Linked DNA regions of Homo sapiens: region 1 is linked to region 2. Evidence: fine-mapped expression QTL. A gene starts in region 2. The other region holds a variant in brackets. All regions are shown on one strand. Distances are between the middles of the regions.

Region 1 (9,546 bases), 35 kb after region 2:
GGCAAATGAGTTTCAAAGAGGTTAAGTAATGGCTCCCCTAACATAAATGTTAAGCAACGACTGCCCCTAACAAAACTCTGTAATGTTGGTGGCCTGAAGTGTCCCACCCCTGCTGCCCCCGCCCATGTGTTGCCCCGCCCCAATAACACCACGCCCACACTGGAATCACGCCCACCCCACACCTGCACTAAGGTGTAGAGCACAGCCAGGGGCAGGATGACCACAGTGAAGAGCGGCGTGCTGGCCATGATGACCACAAGAGTGGAGATGGCGTTGAAGAAGGAATTGAGCAGCATGAGGATGACAGGGGCCAGAACCTCATCAACGACATAGATGTCCTTGGAGAAGCAGTTCAGGATGCGGCCTGATGGTGTGGTGTCAAAGAAGGACTGTGGCGAGCGTATCTTGTTGTGCAGCAGTGCCTGGTGCAACACACGGGCAGCCTGGATGCCACCCGCTGCCATGGCCATGGCTGCCAGCATCACCAAGAACCCTGTTGGAGAAGGCAGAGGGCGCTGGCTCACCTGGACTAGTGAGCGGGCACAAAGGGGCAGAATCAGAGACACGGGTTGACCAGAGTGGGTTAGGGAGGCTTGGATGCAAGGGCACGGTTTGGGGGGCCTGGCAGCCCAGAGAAGAAGGGATATTGGAGCCCCTTCTGGACACCCCCACAAGCTCACCTTGCAGAATTCCTAAAGCAGCATAGACGCCCAGCCTCAGGGAAGTGTTGTTCTGTCTACTGTCTGCCATGGCATCATTTGTCCAGGCACTGAGCCACACATTGGCTCCAATGGCAGCCGCACTTTGACCCACATACAGGAGACAGATGGCCAGCGTGGTACAGAGCCCCACGGCCTTGGCATAATCCCAGAACACACTGAGCTCCACCTGTAGGGAGCAGCCATGGCAGTCAGGGACAGGGGACTCCATAAACCCTGGGGCTGCTGGGGCCTGCCTGTCCATCCCCTCCAGCCCCTCTTGCCCCACCGACTCACAGTGCCAATGGCTGCTTTCTCCTCCTGGGTCAGTGCCCCATCTGCCTTCGCCTCTGTCACCTGCACCTTCTCTGATGGACCCAGGTGCCTCCGGGGTACAGGCCGACCCTGTCCCTCCCCATCTGAGGACAGGGCACTCAGCTGTCTGTGGAGGCAGCTGGTCAGGCCCAGGGAGGGGGCCTCAAGCACCCCCCAGGACAGAGGCTGGGAGTGTCAGGGAGAAACCTGCACCCCATCTGGCAGGGCCTGGGGAGGCCTGATACAGCCTCCGGGAGGGCTGGGAGCTCTCAGGAACTCACCTCATAAACTGCTTCTGGACCACATAGGTGACTGGATCATTGTCTGTCAGATCCGTGTGGTTGCTGAGTGTGTCTTCAATCAGCAGTGCCTCCTTATCCTCTGCACCTTCCAACGCTGCAGTAGGGTGGGAGGAAGGAGATAGGGTTCAGCTAGTTCTCCCTGCAAGCCCCTGGTATCTCCCATTCCCCACTCTAATGAAAGGGGTTCAATGGACAAGCATGAAAATAAAATGAGGGGGATTGAAAGGGCAACAAGAAAGACTTGGGTTAAGCAACAAGAAAAACTCTCTTCACAAATTATGGAGAAACGGACTCAAATACAAGGGTTAGGAACTTGGGCTCTGGAGTTAGACTGGCTGAGCTTAAAACTCACGTCCTTGGTCGGGCATGGTGGCTCACGCCTGTAATCCCAGCACTTTGGGAGGCTGAGGCAGGCAGCTCACGAGGTCAGGAGATCGAGACCAGCCTGGCCAACATGGTGAAACCCCGTCTCTACTAAAAATACAAAAATTAGCCGGGCGTGGTGGCGGGCACCTATAATCCTGGCTACTCGGGAGGCTGAGGCAGGAGAATCGCTTGAACCCAGGAGGCAAAGGTTGCAGTGAGCCAAGATCGCACCGTTGCACTCCAGCCTGGGCAACAGAGTGAGAAACTGTCCCCAAAAAAAAAAAAAAAAAATCTGCATGACTGTAGGCTTAAAAGAAAATGTGTCCAGTGTGTGAGCGAGGGGCACAGCACTTGGTAAATGCTCAAGGCACGTTGGCTGTATGTATAGCCATAGGCAAGAAAGCCCAGGAAAAGGTCTGTGAGCCAATCCAGAATTGGGGGCTGGGGAGCTGGGTCTGGGCAACAAGGAGCCAGGGGCATGTTGTGAGCCCAGAGACGTCAACAAGCTCCATGAGGACTATAATTTTTTTGTTTGCTCACTGCTATAGCTTAGTGTCTGGAACAGTGCCTGTATATAGTGATTGTCCAATAAATTTTGGTTGATAAATAAGCGGCTTTGCTAAGCACTTGCATACTTGCCAAACTATTTATCCATGAAGCAGCCTTGCCACACAAGCTGGGCCTGGGCCCTCCTATGCTTTCAACAGATGGAAAACAGGCTCTGAGATCGGGCAAGGTGGCTCACACCTGTAATCCCAGCACTTTGGGAGGCCGAGGCAGGCAGATCACGAGGTCAAGAGATCGAGACCATCCTGGCCAACATGGTGAAACCATGTCTGTACTAAAAATACAAAAATTAGCCAGGCGTGGTGGCGCATGCCTGTAGTCCCAGCTACTCGGGAGCCTGAGGCAGGAGAATCACTTGAACCTGGGAGGCAGAGGTTGCAGTGAGCTGAGATTGTACCACTGCACTCCAGCCCGGCGACAGAGCCAGACTCTGCCTCAAAAGAAAAAAAAGAAAGAAAGAAAGAAAGAAAGAAAGAAAGAAAGAAAGAGAGAGAGAGAGAGAGAGAGAGAGAGAGAGAGAGAGAGAGAGAGAGAGAGAGAGAGAAAGAAAGAAAGAAAGAAAGAAAGAAAGAAAGAAAGAAAGAAAGAAAGAAAGAAAGAAAGAAAGAAAGAAAGAAAGAAAACAGGCTCTGAGACCGGGGCGGAGGATCTGAGTTCCCACAGTTAGGGTAGAGTAGGATGGAGGAGGCAGTGGGACCCGACTATGTCCAGTTTACTTTACCTCTGGTGACTGTCACACAGATGGCCCAAGTTTCCCAGAACCTGCCTGGCACAACACTAGGCCAGTCTAGACACACTCAGAGACCCCAGACAGGGGGAATGCTGGGAAGGCATGGGAATCAGAGGGCCCAGGATGGCAGATACCGGTCCAGCTGTCCTCCAGGTGCCCTTGGTCCTCATCGGGGGCATAGTTGCAGAGAAAGTTGGCAAAGGAGCCGTTGCGCTGCAGCAGGGCTGGGTACGGGCCCATCTCAGACACCTGTCCATCAGCTAGCACAATGATGAAGTCTGTCTGGGGCAGGAAGCTAATGCCGTGCGTCACCAGCACTCGCGTCTGGGGAGAAGGCAGCAGGCTCTCACCCCTACCACCCTCCAGCACACCCCTGGCACAGGCACGGAGCCACAGAGTGAGTGTGAAGTGTGCCCATGTGCCAGGGAGCTTGGACAGGCACATGGGTGACTCACCCTGTGCTCGCCACAGCCTGCTCAGAACCTCGCAGGTGGGGGAGTTGTCCCCACAGGTTTCTCCTGATGCCCAACCCACATGCCCACTTCTTGCGCCCCCCACACCTCCAAGTCTCATCCAAACCCCTCAGCCTCTCACCAGCTCTCTCTTCGGGCCTCAGATCTCACCTTAGCCCCCTTAGCCTCTGGCAGGCCTCACCTTGCCTGCCAGCACGCCTTCTGGCCCGATGACGTGGTCAAAGATGTGCTTGGCCACATGAGAGTCCACCGCGGACAGTGGGTCATCCAGCAAGAAAATATCGGCATCACTGTAAACAGCTCGAGCCAGACTGACCCGCTGCCGCTGGCCCCCAGACAGGTTAATGCCCTGGAGGGAGGCGGGGGGTGGGAAAAATGGGGTCAGACAGGCACAGGGAGACAACGGCCTGTCCACTGTTATTTGGGATGGCAGATTTTTTTTTTTTTTTCCTGAGATGGGGTCTCACTCACCCAGGCTGGAGTGCAGTGGTGCGATCTTGGCTCACTGCAACCTCTGCCTCTCGCGTTTGAGCAATTCTCATGCCTCAGCCTCCCGAGTAGCTAGGATTGATTGCAGGACCACCATGCCTGGCTACTGACTAAAATGTTTTATTTTTTATAGAGACAGAATCTCCATATGTTGCCCAGCCTGGTCTCCAACTCCTGAGCTCAAGCAATTGGCCCACGTCAGCCTCCCAAAGTAAAGTGCTGGGATTACAGGTGTGAGCCACTGTGCCTGACCAGAACAGCAGTCTTCTGAATCTATATTTCACATGGGGCCTAGTCTGTCCCTGCAATGCTGTGAGGGACAGAGGTAAAGGGTAAGTCCTCCTGGGGCAGGTGAGGCCATTCTGCTCCATTGGTCACCACCCTGCCCAGCTTGGTGTCCTGCCCAACCCATCTACGGATAAATGGGCACACAAATGTGTATATACCTATAATGAAATATCATTCAGCCTTACAAGGAGGGAAATTCTGACACATGCTACAACATGGATATGCCTTGAGGACATTATGCTAAGTGAAATAAGCCCGTCACGAAAAGACAAATGCTGGATGATTCCACTTACGTGAGGTACCTAGGTGATATGGTTGAAATATTTGTTCCTTCCAAAGTGCATGTTGAAACTTACCCCCCAGTGTGGCAGGATTGAGGGG[T/A]GGCATTTACCAGGTGATTAGGTCATGAAAACAGAGCCCTCATGAATGGTTGATCCATTTATGGATTAATAGGTTGATGCGTGAATGGGTTACTGGGGGAGTGGGACCGGTGGCTTTATAAGAAAGAAAGAGAAACCTGAGGTCGCGCGTGGTGGCTCATGCCTGTAATCCCAGCAATTTGGGAGGTCGAGGTGGGTGGATCATTTGAAGTCAGGAGTTCAAGACCAGCATGGCCAATATGGTGAAACCCATCTCTACTAAAAATACAAAAATTAGTCGGGCTGTAGTTGCGTGCGCCTGTAATCCCAGCTATTCGGGAGGCTGAGGAAGGAGAATCGTTTGAACCTGGGAGGCGGAGGTTGCAGTGAGCCAAGATCACGCCGCTGTACTCCAATCTACAGTCTGGGCAACAGAGTGAAGCCTTGTCTCAAAAAAAAAAAAAAAAAAAAAAAAAAAAAAGGAAGGAAGGAAGAGAGACCTGAGCTAGCATGCTCGGTCCCCTTGCCATGGGATGCCCTGTATGGCCTTGGGACTCTGCAGACTCCCCGCCAACAAGGAGGCCCTCTCCAGATGCAGCCCCTGGACCGTGGACTCTTCAGCCTCCGTAACTGTACAAAATACATTTCTTTTCTTTATAAATTACCTAGTTTCAGGCATTCTCTTATAAGCAATAGAAAATGGACTAAGATACTAAGTAGTCAAATTCCTAGGAACAGAAAATAGAATGGTGGTTACTGGGGCCTAGGGGCAGTGGGGAATGAGGAGTTGCTTAATAGGCACAATTTTAGTTTTGCAAGATGAAAAGGTTCTGGAGATCGGTTGCACAGCAATGTAAATGTACTTAACATTGCTGAACTGTACACTAAGAAATGATTAAGTTTTTTTTTCTTTTTTTTTTTTTTAAGACAGAGTCTTGCTCTGTCGCCCAGGCTGGAATGCAGTGATACAATCAATCTCAGTTCATTGCAACCTCCGCCTCCTGGGCTTACGCAATGCTCCTGCCTCAGCCTCCTGAGTAGCTGGGACTACAGGCACACGCCATCACACTCGGCTAATTTGTTTGTATTTCTAGTAGAGATGGGGTTTTATCATGTTAGCAAGGCTGGCCTTGAACTCCTTACCTCAAATGATACACCTGCCTCAGCCTCCCAGAGTGCTGGGAGCCACCATGCCGGGCAAGATGATATATTTTATGTTATGTGTGGTTTTTACCACAGTTAAAAATTGTTAAAAAGCAAAGCCCCAAATTTTCCCCAGTGTTCCATGTTTTTTAGAGTAAAGGCCAAAATCTTAACCAAGGTAATCAGGGTTCTGCCTCTCTCTATCTTTTCCCTCCATTTCCCAACTCCTAGTCATGCCAGAGAACTCCAAGACCCCATACAGGGTTCCATGGCCCCAGACAGAGCTTTCTGGCTCCAGACAAGGCTCACTCGGTCTCTTTGTTGAGTTCTCTGATTCTCAGTGAGGATTTCCCAAGCTACCTTAACCATTCAACTCTGCAGGCATTCCTGTATTCCTTCCCCGCTTTATTTTTTCCACTGAGCATTTATCTAACATATTATATATTGTACTTATTTATCTTACTTATTATCTCTTCCTGCCACTAGAATGTGAGCTATATGAAGGTAGAGATATTAGCCCGGCATTTTAGTATTCACTACTGTATACTATTTCCCAGAATAGAGTGGGTGCTTAATAAATATATGGTAAATGAATGAACAGATACATGATGAGCTCCTCCTCCTCAGTTGTTAAAACTGAGGTCAAAAGTGATGCTTAAGGCTAGGCACGGTGCTCATGCCTGTAATCCCAGCACTTTGAGAGGCTGAGGCGGGGGGATCACTTGAAGCCAGGAGTTCAAGACCAGATGGGCCAACATGGCAAAACCCCGTCTGTACTAAAAACACAAAAATTAGCCAAGTGTGGTGGTGCGCACCCGTAATCCCAGCTACTCGGGTGGCTGAGACACGAGAATTGCTTGAACCCGGGAGGTGGAGGTTGCAGTGAGCCATGATCTGCGCCACTGCACTCCAGCCTGGGTGACAGAGCAAGGCTCTGTCTAAAAAAAAAAAGTGATGCTCAGCCAGGTGCAGCAGCTCATGCCTGTAATCCCAGTACTCTGGGAGGCCAGGGTGGGAGGATCTCCTGAGCCAGCCTGGGCGACATGGCAAGACGCTGTCTCTAAAAAAAATTAAAAATTTAGCTGGGTATGGTGGCATGTGCCTGTGGTCCCAGATACTCAGGAGGCTGAGGCGAGAGGATCACTTGAGCCCAGGAGTTCCAAGCTGCAGCGTCCCATGATGTCACCATGGCACTCCATCCTGGGCAACAGAGTGAGGCCTTATCTCAGAAAGAAAGAAAAAAAAAAAGTGATGCTCTTCCTTATGTAGGCTCCCTGCTGTGCCCTCCCTGTACCCTGCACAGGCCTTCAGCCTGGCTCCTAGAATATTCAATAGTTCCTACTTGTTCACTAAACAGATCTGCTAATAGATCTGTTTCCCCAGTGCCTGGCACAGAGTTGGGCATAACGTTACACCAATGTGTGAATGAAGGGATGAATATATGGACCTGGGCTGGGTTGAGGTGGGCAGCTCTATGCCCTAGCCTCTTAGGGATGGAAGAGGACTCTGTACCTTCTCTCCAATCTCTGTCTGATCCCCACCAGGCAGCATCTCCAGGTCAGCTAGCAAGGCACAGGCCTCCAGAGTCTGCTGGTAGCGCTTGGGGTTCAGGGCTTTGCCGAAAAGCACGTTTTCCTGAAGAGTGCAGTTCTGGATCCATGCCTGCTGGGGCACATAGGCCACGGAGCCCTGGCCACAGGAGAAATTTACCTCGGGGCTTGCCCAAGGCCTGGCTGAGCCCCACACCCTGCCCAGGAGCCCCTGCCTCTCTCACCTTCATGTGCACTTTGCCTTCTAGCTTCTCCATCTCTCCCAGCAGGGCAGACACCAGGGAGGACTTCCCACAGCCCACAGGCCCCACCACGGCCACCAGTGCCCCTTTCGGGACCTGGATGTCTAGGCTGGGGGCAAGGACCCCAGGAGTCCAGTTAGAGGCAGGGATCAGGGTTTTGGTCTCCAACCCTCCACCTGCAGAACCAAGCCCTCCGCCCTTCCAGACACCCCCCTGGCAGGCTGAAGCTCTTCCTGCATTCTTGGTCAAAGGCTTTGCAGGGTGCTGCTATTGATCTGAACTTCCAGCCCACCGTGGGCAGCTGGGAAGGGAGTGGGAGAAGCTGGTACCTGTGCAGAGTGGGGGGCAGGTCCTGGGCCCAGGTGAAGGTGCCACTGTGTATGGTGATGGCATAGCCTGAGAGGACCAAGGTGGGCAGGGTCAGGGAGGGAGCTCAAGGGATGGGGTAGCCTGCAGGGAGGCTGGGGGGCAGGGGAAAGGAGGACAGGGGAGGAGCCTGGGCCATGGGGAGGGGATCCTTGGGAAAAGGGAGGAAGAAAGGGATGTGGGGAGCCCTGTGGAGGAGGGCGGAGGAGAGCAGAGAACCCGGAAGAGGGAGGAGGTCAGAGTCGAAGCAGATGTGAACAGAGGAAGAAGAAAAGGGGTCAGGAGAGAACAAAGGAAAAGCTTGAAACAGAGGTTTTTCTGGAGCAAGGACTGGGGCAGGCAGCCCAGGTAGGGGCTCTCTAGACCTGGGGAGATGGTCTTTCTTTCCACACTCTGGGGGTCAAGTTCCTCTTGGCTCAGGAATTGCTGGATCCGTTTCAGAGACACACTGGCCTACGGGAGGATGTGAGTCAGCCCTAGAGACTGTACTTTCCCAACCCCCAACCCCTACCCTCGCCCCATCCCCAGCATCCTGGGCTAGGCAGGACCCCCTGAGGGCCCAGACACTAGCACTGGGGTCCCTCCCACGACTGAGTCTTCCATGGCTCCCACTGCCCAAAGAGAAAGTCCAGGTTGGTAAGAGGAGGCTATCTACAGAACTCAGGTTTCCAGACACCCGACCTGACCACCTGTGACTCCAAATGACCCCTGACCTTAATGACCTCATTCAACCTTGAATAGCTCTTCATAATGCTAGCAACCTTCCCTGAATCCAATAACTCCCCCTGATTATCCCTTGCCCTAAGTGACCCTTCCCTGACCCCAACAACCTGTTCCAACTCCAGTAGAGCCCCCAGCCCTACCCAGGGTTACCTGAGTCAGGTTGCTGATTAACTGGGGCAGCATGTTGAGGGGAAGTCTTAAGATATTAAACAAGGACACAGACACAAAGGCCTTCTCGGCGTCCAGCACATTGTTTGGGTCCACGTACACGTACACCCAGAGGGTGATCAGGGTCACCTGAGCAGCGTGGAGGTGGTGTCAGGGTAGAGTCCAATGAGCCCTGGCCATGCCTGGGCACCCAGAGCCCTGGAGGCAGGGACCCAGCCCTGTGCCAAGCCTCACCAGGAAGGGGCTGCACATCCAGGTGAAGGTGGTTGTGGTGTGGAGGTAGGCCGCCGTGCGCAGCAGCTGGAGCTCACCCTGCCTGATGCCCTCCACCTGCTTCAGGAAGCTGGGCTCCCAGGCGTACAGCTTCAGCACCTTGATGCCGTTCAGGATCTCACTCATCAGCTTGATGCGCGAGTCCTTCAATTTCATTTGCTTTACCTGTGCAGGCAGAAAGAGTGTCAGTGGCACACCTGCTCCCTCCCCTGACCTCCTGCTCACAGGGTCCTACCTTCCATCCATTCTCATCCATTGCAGCCATTCCACGCTGCCCACCATTCCTTCTCACAACTCCTTGCTGGGCCTGTGCTGTGCCTTGGCCTGGAATGCACAGCCCCTGCCTCCCTGTGTCCTCTGCCTGACAAGATCCATCTCCACCCTCAGTGCCACTGCACCGGCCTCCCCAGGCAGCATCCTCTGTCCCCTGCCCTGGGTTTCTTCTCCTACTACTTCTTTTTCTTCTTCTTATTATTATTGCTAGTATTATTTAT
Region 2 (9,323 bases):
ACTCACAGACTCCCTTGGGGCTATCTCTTCTATTCCCATGACTTCAGCTAGCACCCTTTGCTGACTGCCAAAATACAAATCACCAGCCCAGATCTCCTTCCTAAATGCAATACCCATTCACATAACTGTTTACTGAACATATCCATTTAAATGAAAATCAGAAAAGAAAGCACAGGCTCAGAAGTTGAACTTGAGTTCAAAGCCTTGCTCCATCACAAACTACGATGTATAGCATTGGGCAAGTTTGTTTATTTATTTATTTATTTATTTTTGAGACAGAGTCTCACTCTGTTGCCCAGGCTGGAGTGCAATGGCGAGATCTTGACTCACTGCAACCTCTGCCTCCAGCACCTGCCGCCACGCCCATCTAATTTTTGTATTTTTAGTAGAGACGGGGTTTCGCCATGTTGGCTACGCTGGTCTCAAACTCCTGACCTCAGGTGATCTGCCCGCCTCAGCCTCCCAAAGTGCTGTGATTACAGGCATGAGCCACCGTGCCTGGCCAGCACTGGGGCAAGTTAATTACCTCCCTGAGCCTCAGATAATAATGATGGTCCTGTTTTACAGAGGAGTTGTTGTGAGGATTAAATGAGATAATCCATGTACAGCACTTCCTGCAGCACCTGGCAATGAGTTGATAGTAGCAGATAGTAAAGAGTAGTAGTAATTAAAAGGTCTCAGAAAGTTCAAGTCAACAGATTCAAAAGTGAATTCATGACCAAACCTCAAACCTTCTCTTCATCCTTTGTCCCAAATCTCAATAAATCACACCACCATCTAATCATCCAGAAACCCGAACATTATCCTTGTTTCTTGACCACCACTGCCCTCCCATTCTGCCAGGTTAAGTTTTCCTAACGTAAACCTTGTTGTAACCCACCTATGATCCAATGAATGTTTAAGATGTCTAGGCTTTGCACATATCCATTCATTCAATCCATAGAACAATCCTGCAAGGTGGGTGCTACTATTATTCCTGTTTCGCAGGTGCAGAATTTGAGGCACAGGAAAGTTGAGTAACTCATTCAAGATTATATGAGTGGCAAAGCTGGCATACAAACCCAGGCAGTCTGGCGTCTGTCTCCACACTCACTACCACTATGCCACATTGTTTCTATTGTAATGCATAGCACATTCTATTGTTCGCCTTGTCTCCCCTGATAAACTGTTCTTCAAAGTCAAGGACTCTGATTCATTTGCAGCAGCATCCTCAGTGACTAGAACAGTGCCTGGCAAACAGCACATGCTTAATACAGTTCAGTGAGTTAGGTAGTTCCCTAGAGACAAGACAGAGTAGAGATAAATGGAAGTAGTAATAGAACAGCCAGCAGGTTACATTCAGTTATATCCAAGATCAGAAGTTTTGTTTGTGGATAAAATTTTGTTTTTTTTAATCTGAAGATAATAAACAGAAGACTGAAATCAGAGTAAGTAGAGGTTGAGTTTAAGAAGATCTACTAATATTCACGGATACAGCAGTTATGTAGGGTACATGCTATAATCCTTTTAAGGAAGGGACATTTGACAAACTCTCATAAAGAGAACTCATAGACTTTGGGGGCCGGGCGCGGTGGCTCATGCCTGTAATTCCAGCACTTTGGGAAGCTGAGGCGGGCGGATCACCTGAGGTCGGGAGTTTGAGACCAGCCTGAGCAACATGGAGAAACTCCGTCTCTACTAAAAATACAAAAAATTAGCCAGGCATGGTGGAACATGCCTGTAATCCCAGCTACTCAGGAGGCTGAGGCAGGAGAATCGCTTGAACCTGGGAGGTGGAGATTGTGGTGAGCCGAGATCGCGCTGTTGCACTCCAGCCTGGGCAATGAGAGCGAAACTCCTCCATCTCAAAAAAAAAAAAAAAAAAAAAAGAACTCATAGACTTTGGGGTGCAGTCACGAACAATTTTTTTTAACTGCATTAAAAACAAAAAACAACAACAACAAAAAAACAAAAACAGGCCAGGCGCGGTGGCTCATGCTTGTAATTCCAGCACTTTGGGAGGCTGAGGCTGGCAGATCACATGAGGTCAGGAGCTGGAGACCAGACTGGCCAACATGGTGAAACCCCATGTCTACTAAAAATACAAAAATTAGCCGAGCATGGTGGCACAGGCCTGTAATCCCAGCTGCTCGGGAGGCTGAGGCAGGAGAATTGCCTGAACCTGGACTTAGAGGTTGCAAGGAGCTCAGAGATCGCCCCACCGAACACCAGCCTGGGCAACAGAGTGAGACTCTGTCTCAAAAACAAGCAAACAAAAACAACAAGCCACTACCTACTCCCATGTCACTGAAATTGTGTTGAAGGACTCAAATCCAGTGCCATACACATCAGTTTCAGATAGAGTATCATGCTGGATGTGAGAATTAAAATTTAAATTGGGGGAACAAATGAAAATGTAAGCTCAAGCAGGGTTACAATTTGCCATGGGGGTCAATTTAAGTGTGTAGTCAGTTTATATTCAGCACCACCTGGTGTGCACTGTGTACTGTGTGAATTACTGTATCATACTAAACAAACAGACATTGGTTTTTCTTAAACTGTAGCAAGAAAAATGCTTGCTGTGCAGATCCCAGCAGCCCCAAGAGACGGAAATGAAAACTCCATGCCTAAATTTATCCCTTCCTATTTCATCTCTCCTTGTTCAGGCCTTCCTCCCTTCCTCCCCAGGGCTATTTCCTTAATCTTGACCCCATCTGTAAAGTTCCATCCTGTGCCACATCGGAGGATCTCTTCAGGGCACCTGGGCTCAACAAAACAATATTTCCTTTTTCTCCCACTGGGTATAAAACAGTGCCAACTGAGGCTCTGAGCCTCATTAGATAGATCGGGCAAGAAGTGAAGCAAAATGCTGTTTACATGTACACCACAGCTCTTCCCAGAGCACTTGGAATCAGGACCAGGACACCTCCAAAGCCTCTTTGGTGTTTTTCCTTTCTTTTCTCCTTATATGGCCTTCATGAAGAGTAACTAATTACAATCTGTAAGCAGTAATTACAGTTCATAAACTGTGAGCACAATATAAATATTTTTCCTGAAAGCCAGGTTAGAAGAAATCCTGTCTAAAATGAGATGTAAAACAACAACAATTGAAATAAATATTCTAACTGAATTGTCCCCAAGCACTGTCAAAAAGAAGAAGAGTCTAATCTATCTCTGTAATAATGGGCGTATTATAGTAGGATCGTTTTCAGCCCATTTCCCCATCCTGCTGGGCACGAATTGGCTCAGATAAGGAAAAGGAGCCAACCAAACTGGGGGAAAATAACAAAAAAACCCCAAATCCCAATAAAAAGAACCCACCAATTATTTTGGATGCCTGGTAAACAGCCTGCACCAGAGGATAAGGCTTTTCTGGCCCTCAGCTATGCTTTTTTCTCTTTTCATGTGTCTTGTCCTCCTCCCTTGAAACTGCGGGGTGGGGAAGTCTAAAAATAGTCAATGAATCATGGCATATAATATTGTGCAGTAGTTACATAAACAGCCAGCCCGGGCGCCGGAGCCCCGGGTCGGAACGGAAAATATCTGGGTCAGCGTTGTCACACTGAACAGGGTCCCCCGGAGCCGGCCTTCGGGAGGCGCGGCCCGGGAGGAGGCCTGGGCCTGCGGGCCGGGAGCAGCAGGGGCGGCCCGCGGGAGGGAGCGGAAGTCCCGGGGCGGGCGCGGGCAGCGGCGCGAGCAGGGCGGGCGAGTTCCGCGCTCCCTCCCCATGGCCGGGAGCGGGCCGCGGCGACGGCGGCGGCGCTGACAGGCCCCGGGCGGGGCGGGGCAGGCGGGCCTGGGCGGGGGCCTGGGGCTGTGGGAAGATGAACGCCCTCCTAGAGCAGAAGGAGCAGCAGGAGAGGCTGCGGGAGGCCGCGGCCTTAGGGGACATTCGGGAGGTGCAGAAACTGGTGGAGAGCGGGGTGGATGTGAACTCCCAAAATGAGGTCAACGGCTGGTAAGTGGGGAGCGGGGGAGGCCTAGGGTCAGGGCAGCCGGTCGGAAGGCGTGGGGCAGTCAGTCGCGACCTGGGCCCAGCGCGGGACGCCTGGCTACGGCGAGGCCTGCCACCTCGGGCCTCCGAGATTGTGCTCTCTTGAGGCCAGCCCTGGCCCCCATGCCTCGTGCGGTCGGGAGCGCGTCCTGCCCAAATCCCGGCCCACGTGGTCCACTCGGGGCAGCGCCCACTGGGACTCTGGTGCCCTACCCCCTTCCCCCGCGCTCCCGGCTCACTTGGTCAGAGCGGTGCTGGAGGCAGTGATTCTCAGCGACTATGCGTTGGAGCTCACCCCAATTCGAGTGTTGAGTTAATTTGCCGTAGGTGCTTCTGGAGAACGCATCTTGCAGAGCTAAAAGCATAAGCAACTGAGCAAATATGAATTTTATAAACTAGCACGATTTCCTTAGCCAAGACCAGGAAAAAAAAACACATTTGCATCACCATTCTGCTTCTCTGTTGTTTCACTGCAACCGATTTGCTGCTGCTGCCTGTAGTTGCCTGTTTGAGGGAAAACTCATTTGTTTATCCTATCGATTATTTTCTTTCTTTTTTTTTTTTTTTTTTTTTTTTTTTTTGAGACAGGGTCTTGCCCTGTCGCCCAGGGTGGAGTGCAGTGGCATAGTCTCGGCTCACTGCAACTTCTACCTCCCCGGCTCAGGTGATCCTCCTGCCACAGCCTCCCAAATAGCTGGGAATACAGGCACGCGCCCCCACACCCGGCTAATTTTTTTTTTTTTTTTTTTTGGTATTTTTGGTAGAGATGGGGCCAGGTTGGTCTCAAACTCCTGGCCTCAAGTGATCCACCCGCCTCAGCCTCCAAAAGTGCTGGGATTACAGATGTGAGCCTACCGTTCCTGGCCAGTTTTCTTATTACAATTTCAAATACAGAATGTCACCCAAGACTTTAGATGTCTGCCTGCAGATTGAATTCTTCCCAATTAAATAAGGAGTCTCATCTTAAGATGTTGCTGGTGGTCAAAACAGAAAGTTACTGAATGTGGCATTATTCCGCTCTCTGCATTTAAAATTTAAAATTTTGATTCAGGTAATGCTTAGCCAGACTATTTTGCTAGCTTAGAGTTAAAGTGAGTAGCACTTTGGGAGGCTGAGGTGGGCGGATCACGAGGTCAGGAGATCAAGACCATCCTGGCCAACATGATGAAACCCCGTCTCTACTAAAAATACAAAAATTAGCTGGGCGTGGTGGTGCATGCCTGTAGTCTCAGCTACTTGGGAGGCTGAGGCAGGAGAATCACTTGAACCTGGGAGGCGGAGGTTGCAGTAAGCCAAGATTGCACCACTGCACTCCAGCCTGGGCGACAGAGCAAGACTCTACCTCAAAAAAAAAAAAAAGTGAGTTTACATTTTGTTTTTTTAAGTGGAATCATCCATTTTGGAACTGAAAGGGACAATGGAGAGAGGCTCAACCACAGAGAATAACTTGCCCTAGGCCACATAACTATTAATATGATAGCACCAGAACCATGGTTTCCAGACTGCCTCAAAAGTCTACCTACCTGGACCTGGCGCGGTGGCTGACGCCTGTAATCTCAGCACTTTGGGAGGCCAAGGTGGGCAGATCACGATGTCAGGAGTTCGAGACCATTCTGGCCAACATGGTGAAACCCTGTCTCTACTAAAGATACAAAAATTAGCCAGGGGTAGCGGTGTGTGCCTGTCATCCCAGCTACTTGGGATGCTGCAGCAGGAGAATCACTTGAACCAGGGAGTTGGAGGTTGAAATGAGCCAAGATCACACCACTGCACTCCAGGCTGGTGGCAGAGCGAGACTCTGTCTCAAAAAAAAAAAAAAAAAAAGTCTATCTTCCTGGTAGGACCTGGTGGCTCACGCCTGTAATCCCAGCACTTTGGGAGGCCAAGGCAGGAGGATCACTGGAGTCCAGAAGTTTGAGACCAGCCTGGGCAACATAGTGAGATCCCAGTCTCAAAAAAAAATTTTTTTCTACCTAATTTCCCTAAAGAAAACAGCCTGGACAGCTGTCCAGAAGGCCAGGAAACAGTGGATACTACCTTTTTGTTCTGTTTTTTTTTTTTTTTACAGGTCTTTGCAAACTTGCTGTTGTGTATGTAACCTTTTCTCAGCATTCCTCTGGTTCAAAGCTGTGAATTACCATTTTGGCACTGGGAGGCGGTGTTGTGTAGAAGGAGCCTGGTCTTTCCTGCAGGTTCTCCTCCATTCCTGCCTAGCTATGGGACTTTGCCTGAGATGCTTCATTTTCTACTTGTTCCAGAAGAGTATTGTGAGCCCTTAATGAGATGAAGCATAAATAGCTAACATTTATTGAACTTGCTTTGCAGCACAGATAGGATAGGGTTCTTTTTTTTTTTTTTTTTTTTGAGACAGAGTCTCGCACTCTCGCCCAGGCTGGAGTGCAGTGGTGCCAGGTGCCATCTTGGCTCACTTCAAGCTCTGCCTCCTGGGTTCACGCCATTCTCCTGCCTCAGCCTCCCGAGTAGCTGGGACTACAGGTGCCCGCCACCACGCCCGGCTAATTTTTTGTATTTTTAGTAGAGATGGGGTTTCACCGTGTTAGCCAGGATGGTCTCGATCTCCTGACCTTGTGATCCGCCTGACTCTGCCTCCCAAAGTTCTGGGATTACAGGCGTGAGCCACCGTGCCCGGCCAGCTCAGATAGGGTTCTAAGTGTTTTACATGTGTTAGCTTGTTCACAACTACCTGGGGACATAGTTACTGTTCTCTCCATTTACAGATGAAGAAACTGAGGCCCAGAAACCGTAAGTTGTTTCCTCACTTTTCACAGTGCCCCTTCCCAAGGTCATAGGATTGACAGTAACTAGTGGAGCCAGAAAACAAACCTGGTATCTGATGCCAGACCTACCCTCCTAAACACAATGTCTGCCCCATAGGAGGTGTTTAGTGAAGTGATTCTGAGGTAGCCTGAAGAGGCTTCTTATAGGTTTTTTTTTTTTTTTTTTTTTTTGAGATGGAGTTTCACTCTTGTCACCCAGGCTGGAGTGCAATGCGTGATCTCAGCTCACTGCATCCTCCACCTCCTGGGTTCAAGCGATTCTCCTGCCTCATCCTCCCAAGTAACTAGGATTACAGGTGTGTGCCACCACGCCTGGCTAGTTTTTTGTATTTTTAGTAGAAATGGGGTTTCACCATGTTAGCCAAGCTGGTCTCGAACTCCTGACCTCAGGTGATCTGCCCGCCTCGGCCTCCCAAAGTGCTGGGATTATAGGCGTGAGCCACCGCGCCCGGCCTCTTGTAGATTTAATTGGAGGAACTGTCTAATAGGCCCCTCAAACTCAACATGTCCAAGATTGAATTCCAAGTCTCCCCTCATCCCTCTACCACCTCAAGCCTGCTCCTCTGAGTCCTCAGCCTCTCAGGAGTGCTCAGGCCAGAACCCTTGGCACCCTGCTTGCCTCCTGCTTGCCTCCTGTCTTTCATAGCCGACATCCAGTCAGCCAATTCTATGAGCTCCACCTTCAGATACAGTCAGAATCTGACTACTTCTCACTAACCCTACCACTACACCTCTGATACAAAGCCACCATTGTTTCTCTTGCTTGGATTATTACAATAGCCTCCTACTAGTGTCCTTGCTCCTAAGCTTATATCATACAGTCTTCTTAATTAACACAGTGGTCAGAGGGATCCTGACTTAAAACATAAGTCAGATCATTTCACTCTGCTCAAAAATGGCTCCTATCTCACTCAGTAAAAGCCTACAGGGTCCTACAATTTCTACTTCCTGTCCCCACATCTTCCCTCCTTACCTCTGTGCTAATCTCATGGGATTTGCCCTTCTGCTTACCTTTTTCCCCTGGCCTCCTTGCTTTCTCTGGAATACCAGACAGTCCTGATTCAAGATCTTTGCGTTTTGTCTTCCCACTCTCTTAAATGCTTTCCCTCCAGATATCACATGGTTTGCTTCCTCACCACCTTCAGATTTTAGTTTAGATGTCACCTTCTTGGCAAGGCTTTTCCTGGGCCCTCAATTTAAAGTTGCACAATGCCCCTTTCCAACCTCTGTCATTCCCTAATGCCTTTCCCTGCTTTACTATTGCTGTCATACTTCATCACCACCTAGCGTACTGCGTGCTTTGCTTATTTATTTGCTGATGTCTGTTTCCTCTTCTGTAAAATGGGGGGAATGTTGACAGTAGTATTACCTCATGGGTTTAGAGGATTAAATAAGTTAATACATGTAATGCCTTTAGAACAATGTCCAACACGTAAAGCATTATACCTGTATTAGCCATTGTTGTTGTTTTCTTATTATGAAGCAATATGCTAGATAATGGAATATAAGGTTACCCTCAAAAAAACGTACTCTCTTGCATTTGCAAAGCAGAATGGTGACTGCTTTCAAGTCTTAGTTGCTCAGTAATCACAATTTCAGCACCAATGAGTGATGCCCTGTTGATGAATGACACCCAGTGCCTCAGGTCTGAAATAGTTTCTGACACTAATAAGATATTTTGACTGCAAATGTAAAGCTTAAGGAGTTGAAGTTCAAAGATAGAGTAATCTATCAATTAGATTGATCACTAATCATTCCCCCACATCAGTTGTAATTCAAGTGTCATGCATAACCCTTGGTTCATGAAGAACTTGAAAATATTACCTGGCTGCAGGGGCTCTGAGTTATGGCTGCCCAGAGCCGCACAGCTCTGGACGGTAAATGATGATCACTAAGGCACAGGGCTGTGGGGGCCACGCTATGTTGACTTAACCCTGCTTTACATGGGTGGTAGTTTAGCAAGTTGGTTTGTCCCAGAGTCTCTCAGACCCACTGGTAGTAAATTACCTCCTTTACTCTCAAGCTTGCCACGAACAAGTGATCTACTACTAGCAAGTGAGCATTTTATTTCCAAAAGGGAGCATATTTTTCTCATCATGCTTCATTCATTTTTGAGGGCTCACTTATCATTATAATTGTTCACTTTTTAAGCCTGTGCCACAGACATCCACACACAAACACACTCAAGGTTCCAGTTTGCCCAGAATCAAGGGTAGATTGGATCCTTCTACTTCAAGCAAGGTCCACTTTATCCTTAGTTTACTCATTTGGTACTTTTTTTTTTTTTGAGATGGAGTCTTGCTGTGTTGCCCAGGCTGAAGTGCAGTGGCACAATCTTGGCTCGCTGCAACCTCCACCTCCTGGGTTCAAGCAATTCTCCTGCCTCAGCCTCCCCAGTAGCTGGGATTACAGACATGCACCATCACACTAATTTTTGTATTTTTAGTAGAGATGGGGTTTCACCCTATTGGGCAGGCTGGTCTCAAACTCCCGACCTAAAGTGATCCACCTGCCTTGGCCTCCCTAAGTGCTGGGATTACAGGTGTGAGCCA

Which allele goes with the higher level. Positions count from the first base shown, and alleles are read on the strand shown. Sizes are in standard deviations (SD) of each study's normalised expression.
In carriers of allele T in region 1, the expression in lymphoblastoid cells after a statin of the gene that starts at base 3,544 in region 2 tends to be lower than with A alone (moderate effect, 0.49 SD a copy in CAP).

The links. PIP is the estimated chance that this variant, and not a neighbour inherited with it, causes the effect.
Region 1: its variant is fine-mapped to the expression of ANKRD40 in lymphoblastoid cells after a statin (CAP, PIP 0.93).

The regions. Positions count from the first base shown.
Region 1 is chr17:50,667,225-50,676,770 of GRCh38, reverse strand. ABCC3 (ATP binding cassette subfamily C member 3) reads right to left here. Exons shown (of 31, transcript NM_003786.4): 12 at 9,014-9,217; 13 at 8,762-8,908; 14 at 8,254-8,341; 15 at 7,852-7,918; 16 at 7,505-7,631; 17 at 7,243-7,419; 18 at 3,633-3,800; 19 at 3,113-3,302; 20 at 1,295-1,409; 21 at 996-1,140; 22 at 681-888; 23 at 183-493. Among named protein-coding and RNA genes, the nearest start is that of ANKRD40, 36 kb to the left of the region's middle. The variant T/A (reference allele first, on the strand shown) is at 4,610.
Region 2 is chr17:50,702,135-50,711,457 of GRCh38, reverse strand. It overlaps ANKRD40 (ankyrin repeat domain 40), which reads left to right and starts at 3,544. Exons shown (of 5, transcript NM_052855.4): 1 at 3,544-3,937. The coding sequence starts at 3,804. RefSeq lists silencers at 3,599-3,808, 3,939-4,208.